2 separate regions of the Homo sapiens genome follow, and region 1 is linked to region 2. Evidence: fine-mapped expression QTL. A gene starts in region 2. The other region holds a variant in brackets. All regions are shown on one strand. Distances are between the middles of the regions.

Region 1 (2,909 bases), 22 kb before region 2:
GTTTGGGTACGGATCATGATTTAGCAAGGTGAGGGCTTAAAAAAGTTTTGGAGCATGAATAATCATTTGATAACTGTACTGGAAAGCTAAGCAATTTAAAATACGTTGTCTGGATATTCCTGAAATGAACAATAACATTATTTAAAAGTTTTATTTTAAAAAGTTTTTTCAGTTAAAAAAAATTAAAGGCATAAGTATGATACAAAGGACTTTGGGGACTTGGGCGGAAAGGGTGGGAAGGGAGAGAGGAATAAAAAACTACAAATTGGGTTCAGTGTATACTGCTCGGGTGATGGGTGCACCAAAATCTCACAAATCACCACTAAAGAACTTACTCATGTAACCAAATACCACCTGTGCCCCAATAACCTATGGAAATAAAAAGTTTTTAAAAATTTCATTTTGTGAGTGCAGAGTAGGTATATGGGATACATGAGATGTTTTGATACAGGCGTGTGATGTGTAATAATCACATCCGGGTAAATGGGATATCTATGACCTCAAGCATTTATCCTTTGTGTTACAAACAATACAATTAGGCCAGGTACAGTGGCTCACGCCTGTAATCCCAGGACTTTTGGGAGGCTGAAGTGGGTAGATCACTTGAGGTCAGGAGTTGGAGACCAGCCTGGCCAACATGGCAAAACCCCATCTCTGCTGAACATACAAAAAGTAGGCGGGCGTGGTGGCGGGCGCCTGTAATTCCAGCTACTCAGGAGGCTGAGGCAGGAGAATTGCTTGAACCTGGGAGGCAGAGGTTGCAGTGAGCCAAGACTGAGCCACTGCACTCCAGCCTGGGTGACAGAGTGAGACTCTGTTTCAAGAAAAAATAATAATACAATTGTACTTTTAGTTATTTTAAAATGCACACTAAATTATTATTGATTAGAGTCACTCTGTTGTGCTATCAAATACTACATTTTATTCATTCTATTTTTTTGTACCCATTACCCATTCCCATTACAGCTTTTATTTTTGGGGCAAGGGCTTCCTGAAATACTAAAGTCTTGTTGGTAAAGACAGTAGAATAGCAAAGTCAAGCTAATGTAGGCAGTAAAGTGTGTGGGTGGGGCTTGGCTAATTCTCAGTTTCTGGTATATCTTTTCAGAGATATTCTGTGCTTATTCAACTATACATGTATAAATTTCTTTTATTATTATTTTTATCTTTTTATTTTTTTTTGAGACAGAGTCTTGCTCTGTCACCCAGGCTGGAGTGCAGTGGCACGATCTCGGCTCAGTGCAACCTCCGCCTCCCAGGTTCAAGTGATTCTTCTATCTCAGCCTCCCAAGTAGTTGGGATTATAGGCTCCCACCACCAAGCCCAGACAACTTTTTTGTATTTTTAGTAGAGACAGGGTTTCACCATGTTGGCCAGGCTGGTCTCACACTCCTGACCTCAAGTGATCCTCCCCTCTCG[G/T]CCTCCCAAAGTGCTGGGATTACAGGTGTGAGCCACCGTGCCCAGCCTATACATGTATAAATTTAAGAAATGTGATATTTTCCCCTTTACCAGTTGTTGCAGAAATCCAGAAACTGAGTATGAGATATTCCTTAAATAATGGCGATCCAACAGCGTTTGCTCTGTGGTGATATGTGATGTACTTTCCCAAAGTACGTATATTTACGTATTTTGTGTTGAATGGAATTACCGTTTGAGGTATTCTAGTGTTTTCCCTCTCAGCAATTTATCTAACAGATTATGGTTTTGGCAAAATCTGTGGGGCACATTTTCTTATTCCTGGTTTCCTCTTTTCCATCACAAAGCAGAGTACAGGGCTGAGTGGCAGGGGACAGAAATAATTATTCCATAAGCACTGAAATCTGAAGGCCAGCAGAGGGGCCTTCATTAAGTGCGAATCTGTTGGGCACCCACTGAGTAGTGAACAGGATGAATGTGACAACCACACTCCCTGCCCTTCCCAGGCTTGCAGCTTAGTGAGGGAGAGCAACACTGCCTGCCCTTCATTAGGGGGATGAATGTGACAAAGCACAGTCAGGTTGTGGGAACCTAACCTAATCTTTGGGCTGAATTAAGAATTCCCAGAAGTGACACTCAAGTTGCAAGATGAAGAATAAGCAGGAATGAGACAGGTGAGGGGTGCGGTGTGGGAGGATTGTTCTTGTAAGGGGAGATAGCCTATGCCTTCTCTGGAACCGAGATTACTTTTCTCCGTGTTTCTGGTTTCTGTGTTCCGCCATTTGTTCTGTACATCTTGTGGTCTGCTTTCCAGATTTTTTTTTTTTTTTTTTTTTTTGAGACGGAGTCTCACTCTGTCCCCCAGTCTGGGGTGCAGGGGCGCAATATCGGCTCACTGCAAGCTCCGCCTCCTGGGTTCACGCCATTCTCCTGCCTCAGCCTCCCAAGTAGCTGGGACTACAGTCACCCGCCACCACGCCCGGCTAATTTTTTGTATTTTTAGTAGAGATGGGGTTTCACCGTGGTCTCGATCTCCTGACCTCATGATCCGCCCGCCTCGGCCTCCCAAAGTGCTGGGATTACAAGCGTGAGCCACTGCGCCCAGCTTTCCAGATATTTTGAATAGGAATGTACACATAGACTTTCCAAGTGAGGAAGTCACCATCCTAAATGCATAAGAATCCATCCTATGACTAAAGTCCCTCATCAGCGAGAGCCTCTCATGTTAGTGGTCCTAGGGAGACAAGACCCTGTACCTTTTTTAGTTCTCAGGAGATGGAGTGAAGACTATTTTCTGCACTCTTGATAAAGTTCAAGAAATGCCCATCATTGGCAGAAAATAGAATTAGAATTTCTTAGAATTGGAAATGTCTTTAGAAATCATGCAATCAGGTCTCTTCAACTGAAAAATGAGGAAAATAAGACCCAAAGTGCAGAATTCCTTTCTAAAAATTTTAATTATTTTAAAATTATTATTACTTTATTTATTTATT
Region 2 (2,909 bases):
GGTGCTAGAAAATTCCGCCTAGGCTCAATCGATATCCATTTCTAAACTTCTGCAAGAAAGCTTTAACTGCTTTGACATGCCAAAAATCCAGGTGTGAATTAAACAACGAATGCTTTACCTCGTTTTCACCACTAGTTCTACCAGTCAGAATCTTTTCAAATCATCCTCAGCCAGTGCCTGTCATCCACGGCCTGGTAACACACCCTTTCACCTCCTCATACCCCGTGTCTTCGCTTTTCCAGTCCTTTGGCTGCCCTCCGGTTTCTTCCCTCACATACCTGTCTGACTAGTTCCTAGAAGCCTGGCAGAAATTGTTCTCCGATTTTAATCTGGCTGCCACAAATGAAAGACCTTGGAGTCCAAATACTCCTCTCTCAAAGCAAAATCTAAATGGATATAATTTATAAGCAAAGATAACACTTCTGTTTTTTTCTCTATAAACAAACCATGCATGGGCTTTTAAAGGAGAAAAGGAAGAGTGGATTGACAGAGAAAATAACTGTTTAGGATAGAGGTTAGGAAAAGACTGAGAGCAAGAGAAAAGGCATCAATCCCAGTTGTTAATCCACGAGGCATCCCCCAGACCCTTCTGTAAAGGTTAATGAAGGCAGTAAGGCAGTTATCTTTGTTTCGTGCACTGATGCAATCCAAGCTTCCACGGTTTAGCACATAGTAGACGCTCTATAAATATTTATTGAATGTTGAACGATGAGAGAGTAATTAAAAACCGGTAAGTTGATATCATAAATACAACGACAACGGCTCCCCTATCAAATGTTTAGTGTTCCCAGAGACAGCCCCATTGTTCTACATCTCGTTATACTCTGGCCTTTTCCCGTTTTTGTCATTCGAACTCATATACATATTGAAATCGAAGCACACACAAATCCCTGAAATGACAAACTTAAATGCTATCCAAAGGAAGTTACATTAGGTTGCTGCTTTGAAAATGAAGTCAACTCCTAATGGGTTAGCTGTTTCTGCAGCATTCTTTCCCGCCTTCTTGGAGTTGAGGTGAGGGATTAAACAATCAACCTTCTCTCTCCTTTCTCTCATTCTCAAAGTTTTTCTCGCCTTTTCCTTCCTTTCCTTTGCTTCATTTCTTTTCCCAGTCTATCGTTTCTCTAGGGGTCGTTGCTTTGCTCTTTCTCCCTCTCTGTCTGTTGGTCCCTTTGATCCTTTCTTTCTACCCCTTATTCCCAGCAGCTCCAGAAAATACCTTCTTTCTCCCCGTCTCACGTCACTTCCCTCCCTTCTCCCATCTCCCTCTCCTCTCCGAGAGGTGCGTTCCCCACTAGAGGCCAGCACTTTCTTAGTTTCGTCCTTCCAACCGGCGAGCAGAACTCGGAGAGAAAGAAGGGGGTAAAAAAGAGGAGAAAGAGAGCAAGAGAGGAAAAAACCCCTGGGCCTGGAGCGCAGAGGCCCGGGAGCTGCGTCGCCATGGCAACGGGCGCCGGCAGGAAACGAGGGACGCGCGGGAGGGAGGGGGCGGAGGGCGCCGAGGGGAGGCGGAGGGACGGCGGGGGGGGGGTCCGGCTGCCCCGGAAGCACCTCCCCGCAGCCCCCTCCTCCAGCCCGGCCCGCAGCCCCTGGCCTGCGGCCCCCACCTTCTCGGCCGGGCAGGAAGTGACAGGCCCGGAGCGAGCCCCGGAGGCCTGGCTGAGCCGCGGCCGGGCCCGCACCCGGAGCGGCGGGAGGGGCGGGGAGCCGCGGTCGCGCCGGGCGCCTCCCACCCCGCCCTCGGCGCCCCCGCCCCTCCAGGAAGGGGAGGAGGCGAGGGGAGCCCGCCGCGGAGGCCGAGCGAGCCCCCAGCCCAGCCTGGCGACTGGGGACCCCGGCACATGAGGTGGACGCCCCCGGGGAAGACTTGGGTGCACAGCCAGGCGAGAAGGTAACCGGGCGACCGAGGGCCGGGGAGGGGCAGGACCTCTGGGGGCTTGGCTGCGCGGGGATGTATCCTCAGCCACCTCCATCTGTGTAACGCCCCAGGTACCTCCCCCAGTTGCTTTCCCTGCCTACCTCCGGCGCTGAGCTCTGCGGTCCTTCGGCTCTGCCTGTCCGAGTCTTCTGGCTATTCATTCTGCTGCGCTTCATGCTGTCTGTCCGTCACCCTAGCTGCCTCTGACTGCTCATTTTCTTATTCATTTTTCCTTCTCTGACTTTGGTCCTTCCAGCCGAGCATGCTGTCTAGTTATCTCCCTGCTTTCGTGGTCCGCTGGGTTCCTCAGCCTCCAGTTCCTTGACTTCTGCCTCTGCTCTCTGTATGCACATGTCCCAGCTCACTTGGGTCAGTTCATTCCCGGCGCACCACTGGATCCACCCCCTTCCCCCAGTGTATTTGATTTCTCTTTGAAACATCATTTTCATCAAGGTTCTATATAGAACGAGGACCCTTGGGCGTCTACTCCCTGTTCTCTTGATTATTACCGTGTCTTTGGCACAGTCTTCCCTGAACCACCCCCTTCTCCCGTCCCCCTTCCTATGTCCCATCCTTTCTGCATGATAAGAGTTTCGTGCTTAGGGATATTGACTTTCTCCAACTCTCGGCCCAATGCTAAGTCCACCTCAATGTCCCATTCTAACTCCCTTCGGTAGGTCTGTGCGCCTACCCAACCCCATGTATGCCCACATGCTACCTTTTAAGATGACCATGGCTTAGCTACTCTGGGGGCATCTGTGGATCAGCTTCTCACTGTCTTCCAGTTTAATTTGGAAAATTTTGATACCTGGTGCTGCCCAAACTGTTTGTTGTCTCCATTTTTTATATTTAATCTTGTAGTCATAATGTTGATCACAAATGAATACATTTATGTGCCCGGGATCCAGGAATCCTGGTTTTGGTGGCAGTTTCCCTTGATTTTATTGAGACTTTTAAGTTGGTCCCTTTACATTTTTATTTCTAGTTCACA

What was found.
Region 1: its variant is fine-mapped to the expression of PHC1 in skeletal muscle (GTEx, PIP 0.98).

Annotation. Positions count from the first base shown.
Region 1 is chr12:8,891,122-8,894,030 of GRCh38, forward strand. No RefSeq gene overlaps it. Among named protein-coding and RNA genes, the nearest start is that of PHC1, 22 kb to the right of the region's middle. The variant G/T (reference allele first, on the strand shown) is at 1,420.
Region 2 is chr12:8,912,937-8,915,845 of GRCh38, forward strand. It overlaps PHC1 (polyhomeotic homolog 1), which reads left to right and starts at 1,573. Exons shown (of 15, transcript NM_004426.3): 1 at 1,573-1,891. RefSeq lists silencers at 1,455-1,564, 1,615-1,664, 1,735-2,024.